Linked DNA regions of Homo sapiens: regions 2 and 3 are each linked to region 1. The links come from fine-mapping of genetic effects on gene expression. A gene starts in region 1. Each other region holds a variant in brackets. All regions are shown on one strand. Distances are between the middles of the regions.

Evidence for each region. PIP is the estimated chance that this variant, and not a neighbour inherited with it, causes the effect. A credible set is the group of variants that fine-mapping cannot tell apart.
Region 2: its variant is the best candidate, but not a certain one, in a credible set for the expression of ARFIP1 in whole blood (INTERVAL, PIP 0.72).
Region 3: its variant is the best candidate, but not a certain one, in a credible set for the expression of ARFIP1 in subcutaneous fat (GTEx, PIP 0.60).

Annotation. Positions count from the first base shown.
Region 1 is chr4:152,776,810-152,782,036 of GRCh38, reverse strand. It overlaps ARFIP1 (ARF interacting protein 1), which reads right to left and starts at 2,083. Exons shown (of 9, transcript NM_001025595.3): 1 at 1,811-2,083. It overlaps TIGD4 (tigger transposable element derived 4), which reads left to right and starts at 2,307. Exons shown (of 2, transcript NM_145720.4): 1 at 2,307-2,555. RefSeq lists enhancers at 1,806-1,855, 2,046-2,205, 2,656-2,865.
Region 2 is chr4:152,879,762-152,884,988 of GRCh38, reverse strand. ARFIP1 (ARF interacting protein 1) reads right to left here. Exons shown (of 9, transcript NM_001025595.3): 6 at 3,805-4,026; 7 at 2,109-2,266. Among named protein-coding and RNA genes, the nearest start is that of FHDC1, 54 kb to the left of the region's middle. The variant G/A (reference allele first, on the strand shown) is at 2,614.
Region 3 is chr4:152,949,272-152,954,498 of GRCh38, reverse strand. It overlaps FHDC1 (FH2 domain containing 1), which reads right to left. Exons shown (of 12, transcript NM_001371116.1): 3 at 939-1,000; 4 at 180-282. Among named protein-coding and RNA genes, the nearest start is that of FHDC1, 16 kb to the right of the region's middle. RefSeq lists an enhancer at 4,288-4,582. The variant GTT/T (reference allele first, on the strand shown) is at 2,895.

The DNA.
Region 1 (5,227 bases):
TCACTAACTTCAACAAGACACTGCCTAAGTGGTGGTTTTAATCTATCAAGAGGCTGTATATCTCCTTTGAGAATTTGATAAAAACAATGGACACTTTCCCCAGGGGGGAAAAAAATTCACTCAAACAAAACTGCATATAATTTCAGGGGTGGGAATGAGGAAGACCCCTGAAAGTTGTTGACCCTTAGGCCATGAACCCCAAGTCATCATCCAGGATTAAGGCAAATCATAATCCAAGGAAAACCAGTTTATCAATTTGGAAAGAAACTAAAGTAACTGAGGCAGGGATTTAATCCACAAAATACATTAGAAATCTTTTCTCTTTTCTCAGATAAAAGTGTGTTAGACTTGGTAGTTGGGAGAAGACGTGGGTCATGCTAAGCAAGGAAAACAAAACAAAAAACACCACAGGACAAACGAAAGAAAAGCAGAATTAAGGCAGCAGTAAAATATAGTAATCTGTAGCCGCTCTGAGAGAACAGCAATGAAATGGCCAATTCGGCCGGGCGCGGTGGCTCACGCCTGTAATCCCAACACTTTGGGAGGCCGAGGAGGGAGGATCATTTGAGGTCAGGAGTTTGAGACCAGCCTGGCCAACACGGTGAAACCCCGTCTCTACTAAAAATACAAAAATTAGCTAGGCGGTAGTGGCGCCTACCTGTAAACCCAGCTACTCAGAAGGCTGAGACAGGAGAAAAGCTTGAGCCTGGGAGGTGGACGTTGCGGTGAGCCGAGATCGTGCCAATGCACTCCAGCCTGGGCGACAGAGTGAGACTCTGTCTCAAAAAAAAAAAAAAAAAAAGAAAAAAGAAAAGGCCAATTCCTGAAGCCTTAACAGACGGCTGACTTAAGGTAACCATTTCTGGTGCACATTTCTATGCCAATTAAGTTAATTAAATGGCAAACATGAACACACCCTTACAGGTGAAAGTATGAAAGCAAAAGTTTATGCGAAGTTCTGGATCTCTTCCGGCTTTTCCTTATCAAATAATAATGTAGTTAGATGAATTTTATACTTTAGGAGAAAACAGGGTAGGGGCGGGGGACAGAAATCCTAAGAGTGGCCAAAGGATCTGCAGGAAGTATAAAGTGTAAACTTTTTGAAATCAAAGGGCTCAAGAGGAAGGTAAGAACAAAACAAAGGAAGTAATAACAAAATAAAGTAAAAGGGAAAAACGTCTAGCATCTAAAAACTGTTTTTAAAAAATTATTTCCTTTTCCTAGACACGTAAACAGTAGTAACTTGGCAAACAGGAACGGAGCAGAAGACAATCGAACAACTCCCTTTCCAAAACTCCAGCATTCCTTAGTCAGGCTTGGGACATTTCACAGGCAAGACTCCTCTCTGCACCACTGCCAGATGAATCTCTCAGAGGGACTGTCACTATCTCCCTTCCTCCCACTGCGGGAGAGAGGAAGCTGGGGATGCAGGGAGAAGAGGGGAGAAATGAGGGTTGGACAGCAAGCCTGAAGGTGGCCCACTCCGACACTTTGTCAAGAAAGGTCCGGATTCTGGATCCTGCAACTCCTTTTCCCACCCAATGTATGCAAAGCCAAGAGAGTGCCTCCCTGCAAGGGCCGGTCCTACACCTTCACTCGACTGTTTCGGGGGCACACTCAGAGGGACAGAAGGAATGAAGGACAGAAGAAACCAAAGGCATAACACTTGGGCAGATACGGCACAGACTAAGGAGAGGCGTGCCCTGTGAAAGTTCGGAACGGTGAACCCGTAGGCAACGTGCCCGCCCCACCAGCCACCTCAAACCATCTTTCCCCCGCCTTTTCCCAGGCGAGCCAGCTCCGCCCTCACCTTTCTTAGGGTAACTCGGTAGCTTCTAAGTCGAGGCTTATCCTTTCCGCCGCTCTCTGGAATCGCCTCAACCCTGGCAAAAACTGAGCGGAAACGCGACCCGGACCTTTTCCTTCTTCCCCTTCCCCCACGCACCTCGGCTGCTCGGGGGCGGGGAGCAACTGCAGCTGTCACAAATTCACACTGACCAACCGCCGAGGACAGTCGGACCGGCGACCTCTCAACCCAGCCTCCAGAACCAGAACCAAGAGCAGCGAAGCCGGAAGTGAGGAGACCGGAAGTAGCGTTGTCCCTGGCCCTGGACGGCCTCTCTCTCCCTCAATCCGGCCTTGCCCGGCCACGTCTCGGTGGTGTCAGCGCACCTCCCACGAGGATCCCTCCGCCCTTCTCCGGGAGGCGGGCTACGCCCCTCCCTCTGCTGCCCTAGCAACCACATCCGGGACTCCGGCGGTGTCGTTGCCCGGGTAATTTTCTGGCAGCGACCTAATGCGCGCGGGGCCAGAGGCACCGGCTAGAGCTGGGAGCTTGCGGAAGGGCGCCCCTGCCTGGTCTTGAGAGGTCGAAGGTCTCCAGGAGGCCTCCGCCTCCCTCTTTTTCATTCACACACCCTAGCCTCACACGTTAGGAGGACCCCCCCAACAGACCGTGAGCTGGTGCCGGGAGGGTGGAGGTAGATGTACCTCACCTCCACGCTACCACAGAAGAGCGAAAGCTGCTTTCTCAGCCACCGGAGAGCACGAAGAAGGTTATTCCAGTCCCGGGGGGAAGGTGGGGGTGGTAGGGAGAATGCGAAGATAAGGCAGCAGACGGAATGCGGGCGCTGCCTCGCGCTGCCCCCGTGCCTGGGGAGCCCTCTCCCTTCAGAAAGGCTAGACCCCCGGGCCCGGCATCCCTGAGCTCTTACTTGCTCTGGATTTGTGATCGCTTTTTGCTTTTTGCTCGCTCTCTCACAGTAGATTCCTTGATACTTTTCTTTCCGGCTCCTCTTTCTTTTTCCGGATGACCGAGCTCTGCTTTCTTTGCTTGCCCCATTACTTCTTAAATAGATCATTGTTCTGTCACGGAAACTGCTGAACAATTCGCTCTCTCAGAGCCCTTCGTAGTTTCCTAAACGGGGCCCCAACCTGCACTACTCTCCCCATCCCCAGAGCTCAGTGGTGCGAAAGCGTGGCTCCCCCGTGGCGCTAGATAGACCTGAAGTTCATTTACACACTGTACCATACAGTTGGTCCATCACAGAATATCCCTTCGAACTGCTGGACTGCTTTTCCTTTGACAGCTTTGAATGCTCATTTTTACTCCCATTTCACTTGTAGAAATGCGAAGGGTAACTGTGCACACGGCGAGATTTACCCTTCTTTAGACCGTACTTCTCAGCTGCCTTTACTTGTCACAGTAGCTGACAAGATATTTTTAATGACTAATGCCCAAAGGCAGAGCTCTACCTCTACAGATTTCCAGGGAGTTTCAGTGTAGTGAAATATCCCTGGCAGGTATCTTCCCCAGATCTGTGAATAGTAAACACCTATGGCACCATAAATGTTTCCAATGTATAACAATATTGATTGAGCTCTCTAGGATACCACCTCTTAAAAAAATAGTACTGAAATTCCAAAACATAAATCTCTTATCTTAAGTGGTTCTGTCTTAAACAAAAGAAAGGAGCAAATATATATGCCAACCCACTCAAACTGTAACTTCAATTGTTATAGCTTACTGTGGATTTTTCTGTACAAAGCCATCTTGTTGGTTTGGAGACCATTAGTCTTCTCAATTATAAGAAAATAATCCCAATCTAAATTAATTACTGCTGTAATTGTGTAGGAACTGAGCAACTACAGAACTTGCAGCTAAGTACAAGTGTTGTTCCTAGGGTTTCAGAAGGGTGACTTGGAGGAAGTGTACGGTAGGACTCAGCGGTGCTTGAATGATGTGGACAATGAATACTAAATTGTTTTTGCTGGCTGTTATCTTAAAGATTCCTGCTAGCTGTCTCTTGAGTTTGGAGATGCTTAGCTTGACTAAAGTTAGTCTAACTATTAGACTGTCAGACTCTGAAGTGTTTCTTATTTTGGAAAGGTGAAGACTTGCTTTAGTTTGTTCATAGTTTCCTTGGCAGCTGCTGATGGTTTTGATGGAGATTCAGATGGATTTGGAACTAATGCTAACTTCTGCTTGGTGAAGATGCTAACCAAGTTAGATACTCTTCAGTGAATTCTGGTACTGTGTACGATTAATCCTCATCCACAGTATTACGCTGTGCAAGGCTATATATACACAGGATTAATCTTTCCATGATTTCCACTGCCCTGAAGGAAATTAGAATGTAGTCTGGCTCCAAGAAAACACTAGAAACTACTTCAGCTGGTGATGGAAAATAGTGGAATTCTATACATCCTTTGAGACAATGGAAGCAGCAAACCAGCGTTCTTTGGATTGGGGAATATTTTTGGTACTAACTGAAAAACATCATTTTAAGCCTGGCCCTGCTTAGAGGAGACTTGTTTTCTCTTCCCTCTCTCCCTCTCTTCCTTTTTTCCCTCCTTCCTCTTTTTCTTTCCTCCTTTCCTTCTTGTCTCCCTCCCTTCTCCTTCCTTCCTTCTTCCTCTTTTTCTTTCCTCCTTCCCTCCCTCCCTCCCTTCCTTCCTTTTTTCCTTTCTCCCCTCCTTCCTTCCTTTTTTTCTTCCTTCCTTCCTCCCTCCCTCCCTTCTTTTCTTCCTTTCTTCCTTTGCCCTAAAACTTGGGGGACCCTGCCTGCTCATTTTGTTTAGAATAGAAGATTACTACTTTTCTCTGAATTGTCATTTATTTTTAGAGAGGTAAGAAAAAAGGGAATAGCTGCCTTCCATATATACTTATGACATGGAGATTATCTACTCATTTAACTTTGCACTGCTATTGGCTGTTTATTTGGCTTTTGAAAAATCAGGTGCTATTTATTCATTGGGCTTGTGGGGAACTCTAGTAGCCCTGAATGGCATTTGTGGCATACTCAATGAAGTCTAATTCTTTATCCTGGCATTAAAGGCTTACCAAGATCTGGCCTCAATCTTGCAAATGAGCACTCTCTTATATACCTGAAGGAAAAGTGCTAATTTAGCCAACTAATAGAGATAGGTATAAATACCAATATAGACATAGATATGAAACTTTAGTTGCAAAGAAATGTTTAATATGCTTCAAAGTGCATATTTCCCTCTTCCATGCTTTATTGTCTATTCTTATCAGCAGAAATGTTTTCCTATTTTTCCTTACCTGTGATGTACCTATCCATCCTTTACAGTTGAGTTCAGATGCTACTTCTGTCATGAACCCATTATTTATCCTCCCTGTGAGAATTCATTTTTCCCTGTTTTTGGATCTTACAGCCTTTGATTTGAGCCCCCATTTCAGTCTGCTTTATACTACTGTCTTGCA
Region 2 (5,227 bases), 100 kb before region 1:
ACATTACTGTTGTTGTTTTTTAAAGTACACACAGAGGCTGTGTAAGGGTTTCCCTTAAGAAACCAGCCACCAAGTACATGTAACTTGATTTATAATTTTGTTCAAAAGTTCCAAATGAACCTATATACTGTATTTTATAATCTGAGATCTTATACCACATTATACTTAGGGCACTAATACTCAGGTATAAGGCCTACTGATAAAATGTGAACCATAGAGAACCAATGGGTTCTTATTTTGCCTTTGAAATTGACTACAAGTGAGCAAACCATTTAACCTCTAGAGTGTTTTCTCCTCTACAAATTAATTATAAACTGTTTAGAAATAAAAGCTGAAGGGAAAGAGATTATTATTAACGAAAATATATTTCAGGATAGGTAGACAATTGCAAAGTAGAGAAACTAGATTCACAAAGTTCTCAACTAGGAGGTGGTGGGGGTATTTTTGGAAGAAAACAATATCCATCTTTAAAACCCATACATGTTAAAACAATCAGAAGGACTAGAAAATATGAATATTTAAAATGATTAGAGATAAAAGAAACAGTACCATTATGAACAAATTAGGACATTATGAACAAGGAACAGAAAAATTTAGAAAAGGATCAAGTAAAACTTATATAAATGAATTTTAAAATTCATATACATAATGAACCCTTTGAAAAATATAATTTCCATGAAAGGATTTACACTGAGACTGAAACACCAATTACTGAGAATGTTATTGAAGAGATTTCCACGGAAGGCTATCTTACTAACAGCTATCCTCACCCTTACCCCTCCATACAACCACAGCTGTTTGACCTTCATTTTCAAGTCAATAAGAATCTCATACTTTAATACTAAATGGAAAATGACAAAATAAACATGGTATGGGACAGAAGCATCTCTTCCTGTGAAAACATCAAAAATTAACTTTTCAAAATGATTTGGGCTTTTACTTAATTGAAGTGTAAGGAAATATATATTTAATAAGCACTCAATTGCAAAAATACTAGATGAGTTTGGAGTTTTTTACAGGTATTTCTCATACCATTAAACTAGGATAAGAGGCCAAAGAGTAAAGTTATCCTTCTAAAAGGTAAAGTTTATCTTCAACTATGCATAAAAAGTATAATGGAAAATAAGAATTTTGAGTGCTCAAAAGAAAAAAACCTCAAAAGGGACTAGAATGATACTTAAATAAAAGGGGTAGGGCATATGGGGAAAAAATTGGGCCTGGAATCAAAAGGTGAAAAAGGCTATTATAGGTCTGCCATATTTTAGACCCTTCAAAATATTTATTAATATATTTATTAATATATATTTTGTTCACCATTTAACAGGATAGTTATGAGACAGGGAAACTGTATATATACATATATATATGAATATGGATATACAAAAACCCATTAAAATAGGATGTATAAAAACACTGCATTATGAACAGTTATCAAAATACAAGTCAAATATTTAATTTATATAAAAGGTAAAATTTGAAAGGGTTTGAAGGCTTGTTATAATCTGGATAAATGGAAGATGACTGATATCCTAACAAACAAAAATCATGGAGGCAAAATGAGCTTATTTATTCAATAGAAACTGAAAGTATGGGTCTGGCTATTGTGGAAGCAGTGGTAATAAGGATGAAAGGTAAATTTAGGCGAGAGTATAGAGGACCATGTAATACCTACCTGGTAGAACATAGGGCCCTGTCCTCTTCTAAAGAAGCCAGAGCTGGGAGATCCTCCATTTCCCTACTCACTAGAAGGCAGGGTTTGGGCACATGACCAAGGCTCAATTAGATAATCTCAAGGCAATGAAGCAAGTATTCATGGGTATTTAGGAAATTATTTATGGTAGCTGTGGCAGCATCAAGTACTAGAGGCACCCAGCATAGGGGTTCTAATTAGATTCTTCTGAGGCTTAACTTGGCTTTGGTTCTTGGTTGTTTCCAGAATCTTGTTCTCTCCCTTTCTGCCAGGTCTGTAGAGGCATCCTATAACTTTCCAGTACATTTTTTTCCTGCCCATATTGGCCAGAGTTGGTTTCTGTTGTTTGTAACCAAAAAATTAACTGAATTATATGCCATCTGTAAAACAGACAACACAGTGAAAATGTATACCTTACCTGGCACTTTCATACTGTTTCACAGTCATTAATGTATCTTCAATGGTTTTATTCACCAAAGTGTTCACACTAGCAATGAAAAAATTAATGGCCCCAAGAAGAGTCTCTCCATTTTTAGCCAGCAGTTTCTGGGTATCGGCATTATAGCCAAATTCTTCCTAAAACAAAGAAGTCACCTTAATTTATTCAGTAATAAATCAGTAAAAGTGACTTAAAAATCTCAAGCACGTCACTAATGGGAAAATATGTGATTTAGATAGAGATCTAGCTGTAGCAGTTTTACTTTTCCTTTCCGTCTTTAAGAATCGAAATCACAGCTAGCCATATAATTACTGAAAAAGTCTAATAAACCAAAATTGTCATCAGCTCAGATACATACCTAAAAGCTAAATAATTTTTTTAAGTTACTTTGTAGTAGAAACAATATTTTCATTTCTACATTTTGTTTCTATTATACTATAAGCACAGCTGTTGGAAAGAAAAATAGAGCAGATTATTAATCAGA[G/A]AAACTATAACTTTCACAGCCAAATTAGGTAATAATTGGTTAAAACTTTCAGACATAAAACAAAGTGCATTTTTTTTGTGTTTTGACTGATTCTCCTCAAAGTATAAATATTAACAATACATATTTCTTTGTAAACTTGGTGACTAGCTGACTCCCAAGCTCAGCTCTATTTAGGCACACAACTGAGGAAGGATCACTCAACACCAGCTTTAGTTCATTCTTTTTGAATAAACTGCATCTTGGTGCAGTAAACATTACACATGACTCCTTCAGATATGGCAAGAACTAACTCTAGCTCTGTATATTCAGCAGTGAAAGCTTTCCAGTGCAAGTTTTACTAATTAACAGATTAATCAGGATGCACCTAACCAAATAAAAAACCGATCACATATTCTAAGATGTATCATTTAATTTGATAATTCTCCAGTTTGTTACAAAACACTTTTCAATTTCAGTTGAAACAAATAATGTAATATTAAATTAACTAAAATATTAGAAGATACAAATTTAATGCTATTGCAATAGCTGTAATTACGTTTCTTAGGTGACAAAGTATTCAATAATTCAGAAAATAGCAGGAAAGTAAAATTATCCTTATTATGCTAAAACCATTTTCCATTTAAGAGATGTCCATGTAACTCCACTCTGTACTCAGTCTTCAAAATATTATAGACCTTGATTTGTTGCAAATATTGGCAGATAAAGGACCACATAAAAAGATTACCAATCAATGCATGTAAAAACTAAAATGAAAAGCAGGACAGCTTAAGATTTTTGGCACCAAATTTCCACAAGCTAAGTTACACACTTCACTGAAGTCTACATAAATGTTACTGGAAATAGAATAATACAGAAAACAACATTTTTACAACTTTTAGAAAAAGTTAACAGAACATATTACAACAGTAACCCTTGATATTGATTAAGGAGTAAAAGGCAAAATAAAATATTAACAAACAGGAAGAAAAATATGAAAGATTTATATACATATGATAATTCATAAAAAGTAAAGTTAACAGAAGTCATATCACTTTAAGAGGGCCTTCTTAAAGTGATATGAAATATCTTAAAAGAGAATCTCAGAATTCCATCTTCATTAAGAGTTCAGCAAATCACAATAACAAATTACCTCTTAGAATACTTCTATTATCATTTTCTCCCATCCCTAATAGTTATTTAGAATAATCTTACATGAAGTTCTAGTGACTTCAAACTCAGGTCAGCAAATGCATCTCCAAGTTGCCTTTGGGTATGTACCATCTGGAAAAGCTGGGTCGACAATGTTTGAGCCAGTTTTAAAATATTTTCATATTTTTTCTTGTTATCCCTTAATATATCAATCTGAGCTTCAAGTTCAAGGTCCACAGTTCTTGAGCCACGGCCTAGCTTCTCAGAGATAATCTGTCGAGTACACTAAAAGTGGAAGATGCATTTTGTTTAGAAAGAAAAAACAAAACAAAATATAAATGCTAGAGCATATGGCATACACCATTTTTTGGATTCAAACAAGCTAGCGTAACAAACTGAAAATTGTCAGCTCCCTTACTTGATCAGGACTCAGAAAGTAAATTCACCAGATGTGTCTAATAATTATTACTAATCAAAGGAAGTTTTAAGACATATCTAGCAAACTTATATACTGCCATAAGAACTCTCTCACATAATTATTTTGCAAGTTTAGTACATTTGGGTAGATTATCTAAAACAGAGATATTTGGCATTAAGACTAATATAGACTGTTAATATAGGAATAATAAGAACACCAAAATACTACTCTCCTACTGCTTTCAAATGCTCTTTTACTTCTATCTTCCCCCTTAAATGACTTGTATATATATATGTGTGTATGAATGAGGAATAAAGAAAGAAGAAACAGGAAGGAAGGAATGAAAGCGGGGGGGAAGAGGAAGAGAGAGAAACTACTAAGTTACTTTTACTCACACAGTGTGGTATTATATGATGTTATGTTATTGTATTCTGCCCCAGAAATAATAATACAGAAACCTATAATTTTTTTTTTTTTTTGTCTGAGATGGAGTCTCTCTCTATTGCCCAGGCTGGATGAAGTGCAGTGGTCCAATCTCGGCTCACTGCAACCTCCACCTCCCAGGTTCAAGTGATTCTCATGTCTCGGCCTCCTAAGTAGCTGAGATTACAGGCGTGCGCCACCAAGCCCAGCTAATTTTTTGTATTTTTAGTAGAGATGGGGTTTTGCCATGTTGGCTAGGCTGGTCTCAAACTCCTGGGCTCAACTGATCAACCTGCCTTGGCCTCCCAAAGTGCTGGGATTACAGGCGTGAGCCGTTGTGCTCAGCCTAGAAACCTGTAATTTTTAAAAAGTATCTAATTTCAAAGCACATGGAAATAAGTTTCCTAGTATTAATGTTTTACTCTCAACTTCATTCGATAATACATTTTAAGAATAACTGGGGCATTAATATATACCTCATCATTAAATGTTATCAGAAATATTCTTAAAAAGTAGTAAATAAGTACTACAATTTTTTGTTTTGTTTTGTTTTGTTTGAGATGGAGTTTTGCTCCTGTTGCCCAGGCTGGAGTGCAATGGTGCAGCCTCAGCTCACCACAATCTCCACCTCCCGGGTTCAAGCGA
Region 3 (5,227 bases), 170 kb before region 1:
GCCAGACTGGTCTCAAACTCCTGACCTCAGGTGATTCATCTGCCTCTGCCTCCCAAAGTGCTGGGATTACAGGTGTGAGCCACTGCTCCTGGCCTTCCATGTGAGCTTTGACACACTTAAAAATATTAAGCTTTTATGATCACTCCTAACATCTACAACTCATGCGCTGAATTTCTTACCTCTTCTGACTCTGGCAAAAACTTAAGAAATTCTCGCAAGGTCTCTGATCCATAATGCTCACTTTTTCCTTGATGAATATCTTCTACAATGGACCGAGGAGACCTTGAAAAGACAATGAATCACATTCCATTTCACGTTTGCTGGAGTGCCAACAGAGGTGCAAGCCAGTGGAAATTAAATCTCCTCCACCCTCCTTCCCACCCACCTCCTTCCCAGACTGGCTGGCAGTTTTGTGTGAGTGCTCATAACAGCCCCACTGCCTCAAAACAGGGAACCCAACACTCCACTCAAGGGCCCTTCACCCAGAGCACCATCCTTGGGCATCCCAAAAAGGCTGAAAGCAGCAACAACCACTGGGAGTCTCTTTTGTTGTGAGAAAAATAATCCTCTTTGGTCTCACTGAAACCCCTGCACAACCTTCTCCTTATACTTCAGAACACAAAACTCTGACCGCTATTTGACTCATCAGTCCAACCTCCACTGAAGGGGCAACACTAAAGGTGACTCTGAAGGTGTCCCTGATGGGACAGGCTTGAATGGATGCCCTGGGGCAATTCTCCATATACTTCAAGCCACTATGTTATGTTTCCCTGAAGAAAAACAGCAGAAAGTGACAGTCACTTGCAGGCTCATCAAGCCATGCGTCTAAGAAGGATTTGAAGGTGTGAGGAATTTGAATTCCAGCTCAGTCACACCCACAGACTTTGATGCTGACAGCAGGGATATGACTAAAGTTTCAAATGTGTGCAAAATCTTACTTCTTAAATTGCTTAAGAAATATCCCAATGTTCATGCTCCGTTTTGCATCCAAAATAGTAATCTGGAAAAAAAAATAAGGACACATAGGATTACTAAATTCAAATAAAAAGAGATGGAGAAAGAAGATAATTAAAACCGATCAAAATGCAACACTAATTTATCAGAGAATAATTCCCAATGTATAAATCTGGTGATTAACAGATATTCCTAACATAGTTTTACAAATATTAAAAGATTATCATCTCCCCAAACTTTCTACAGTGGTATTATATTTCCTTAAATGTAATAATAACACATACCTACTTTAATATTATATAACTTTTAATATACAGATGGTCCCGACCTATGATGGTTCAACTTATGATTTTTCAAGTTTACTATGAGTTTAGTGGGATATGAAATGCATTTTCTTTCTTTTTTTTTTTGGAGACAGAGTCTCGCTCCGTTGCCCAGGCTGGAGTGCAGTGGCACCATCTTGGCTCACTGCAACCTCTGCCTACCGGGTTCAAGTGATTCTCCTGCCTCAGCCTCCCGAGGGCAGCTGGGACTACAGGCATGCACCACTATGCCCGGCTAAATTTTGTATGTTTTGTAGAGATGGAGTTTCACCATGTTGTCCAGGCTGGTCTTGAACTGTTGACCTCAAGTGATCCACCTGCCTCGGCCTCTCAAAGTGCTGGGATTACAGCCATGAGTCACTGTGCCCAGCCACATTTTCAACTTAGAATATTTTTGACTTAACAAATGGGTTTTTAGGATGCAGCCCCATCGTAAGTTGAGAAGTATCTGTAAAGTCAGTCATCCTTTAGTATCACAGGGGATTAGTTCCAGGACCCCTGGGGATACCAAAATCTAACGATGCTCAAGTCTTACATAAAATTGCATAGTATTTTGCATATAATCTATGCACAACCTCCTGCATACTTTAAACCATCTCTAGATTACTTGTAATACCTAAGACAATGTAAATTATGTTATGTAAGGGGTTGTTATACTGTATTTTTAAATTTGTATTATTTTTTATTGTTGTATTGTTATTTTCTACTTTTTTCTGAATATTTTTGATTCATGGTTGGTTGAATTTGAGGATGCAAAATCTGCAGTCATGGAGGGAGGACTGTAAATATACACTTTAAATGTTTTAAATTTAGCAATTTCCTCTTAGAATAATATCACCCACATTTAAAAGCCCCAATTTAGAAATGGATGTCTTGGCCTAACAAGAATCGCGTGAGATTTGAACTGAGAAAATAAAAAACAACTCTGAAGATAAGGCAGATTGAGTCCCAACCCTGATTTATGGACGTAAAAGAACCAATAAAGTCATATTTCGGAAACATCATTAAATTTTTTTCTAAAAGAAAAATTTCATTTCATTCAAAAAGTTTACATATGTCCAACAGACCTTTTAGGAGGGTGTAAGGTAGTGTCCTACATTTTGTTTACTCACAATTTTAAAACGAAAAATCTTGTGCTGTATACATTTCACCAAGGATAAGATACTTTTTTGTTTGTTTGTTTGTTTGTTTTTGCATTTTTCTGATCTCTGGAATCAGGATGTGCCTTACAATACATGGCATCTTTTTATTTAATGAAATATGGGATAGCTATTCTGTCAAAACCCAGATTGAGCTGTAGCAGGTTTTCACTGATCAAAATTTCAGGTGGCTTTATCAGACTAGAAATGAGAACTTTTTTTGGCTGTTAAATACAGAAGCCATTTCTGTCTCTGGATGTAAACATCCCGGCTGCGTGGAGGAAAGATAACCTGAAAACTGCTGCAGTTTTTTCCCGTTTGTTTTTTGGTAACGGGAGACTAGCTAAAATAGGAATGTTGTTATAATGCTCTTCCTTTCCAAATGTATGTGATTCACTGTGAACAAAAGAGAATCAGGTTTCAGGCTAAATTCCTGATCTCTGGGTCTGCTTCTGAGTTGATAACCAGCAGCGAGACT[GTT/T]AACCAACGTTAATGTCACTTCCTGGCTATAAGGTTAAATTTTTACAAGAGTATGGTTGCCTTCTTTTGAAGACTAATCTTTAACAGTCACATTATTTACTAACCTAGGGGTTTATTTCATGTTAACACAATCACCTGCCAGCCATAAGGTAAAAACTCCCAAGCTGAAAGGGCGGCCTCCTTATTGGAATCCTATCTGGGGACTGCAGTTCAAGTTCAGTGTAAAGGGAGGAGAGGAGAGAAAGAAAGGGTGAGAATAAAACCTGTCAAACTCAACACCCTTTAAAAGGTCATACCAAAAAAGGAATCTCGATTTATTAAGACAGAAAACTGGGTTCATTAGAATTAATAAATTAAAAGGCCATGCATAAGAATCTGTATGTTGATATAGTTACACAGCACGTTCAAAGAACTTCCTCTGCATTCACCTAGGATGGATAAATGACTTGTTTCGTATTCCTTTCATGAAAGTGCCACCTTCTGCTACATTCAACCCTTGACTGCAGTGCTCTCCCACACCCCACGTGAACCAAGCCCCACGCTCATCCTGTTCACCCCTCAACCCTCTGGGACTCTCTTCACTCAGCCTAGATCCGGAGACATTGCTGCAGGAAAAGTGAAGGAGAAAATTACTCTTATGATCTCTACTGGACAGGTAAGGAAACTAAGCCTCATAGACATCATTTTATAACTTTCCCAGAGCAGTGTTGAACTGATAGGTTAGCCTGGTTCTCTCTGACTCCTTTTCACTCTAGTTTCTGTGGGTTTTCACATTACTGAGCTTCCTATAGAGACGTAGCAAACGTTCCCTACCAGCATGGTGCTTGCATTGTGAGTTTTCTCCAGGAATGGGGACAGATGTGTAAGAAGCTATACGTGTGCCTGGCCAAGTCCCCTGGTGACCCCAGAGCTGTATCTGAGAGATGACAGATGGGAATCATGTTCTCCCCAGGCAAGAGAGCCTCCAGGGGCCTGAGCCCTGGCCCTACAGGAGCAGCCCACGGTGCCCCAACACAGGGGCAGCCCAGCTGTAGAAGCAGGCGTCTCTACAGCTCAAGCTGTGTTTCAGAAACAAAGAGAATTGGGTGATATTCCTAAGGGAAAACCCGAGCTGGCTGTGACTGAGCACCTTACAGGAAAAACAGAGCCCAGCACTTCACCCAAACAACATTAAAATGAGACAACTGATATCATTCAGGGACAGTCCCACTCGCTCCCGGCATCCTCAGATTTGCCTGGTGTCTGAGGAGTCTCTTTCTCCACTTTATCGCATTCGATCCTTCCAAAGCAATGTTATAAGGGTGACTGTTGAAGTCCTTTAAAGAGGGTTATCACTGCACATGTAAATTAGCTTATCTCACTTCCCAAATGCTTGCTCTCTCAAAGCTGGGCCATTCAGAAACAAAGTCGGGTCGGGTTGGGTGGTGTTTTGGAATCATTCAGAGCAGTGGAATCTGCACATGGGATCCCAGTGGGACTCACTGGCTGCACAAGCTGACAAATCAGAGGCAAGAAACTGCCCAAAGAAGAGGGATAAACAAACCCAGCCAATGAGTGAGCTGCATCATCCCCTCCCTCCCACCAGCTCCGATCAACCGGTAATTACTCCTCTGGTCACACCAGGACATGCAGGCAGGACCGCCACAGAAGTCGGTGCCACGGGTACAGTCAGCATACTGCAGAGTTCGTTACCTCTTCCCCCAAAATTCCTACCAAAGAGTGGCAAACAAGGCAGCTTGAAATATAAGGTAATGAGGTAATTAACGCACTCAACTCATTTCAACATTTCAAGGATTTCCTGCTAGGATGCGAAGGGGGCCTGGGCTCTACTCACAGTTTCCCCGCAACTGCCAGGGGGCCAGGGTTGTGCTGATACCCACTGAAACAGTCAGCAGCACTATGCCACTCAGTGAGACATGTGGCTACACCATCACTCTTGCTAAAACCTCCAAATCAGCTCTTCTAGTTTATTCTACTACAACTTTTGTAGTTTCAATTCACTTCATCAATCCACTACAAAATCTGCCTCCCATATCCTTTGAAGGAAGAAGAAACTTTTTTTCAGTTGTGGTAAAATACAAATAACAATTGCCATCATAACTTTTTATTTATTTATTTTTTTAGAGACAGGGTCTTGCTCTGTCACCTAGGCTGGAGTGCGGTGGTGTGATCATAGCTCACTGCAGCCTCAAACTCCTGGGCTCAAGCAATCCTTCTGCATCAGCCTCCTGAGTAGCTAGGACTAGGGATGCATGCTGTCACACCTGGATAATTTTTAAGACATTTTTTTGTGGAGATGAGGTCTCACTATGTTGCCCAGGCTAGTGTTGA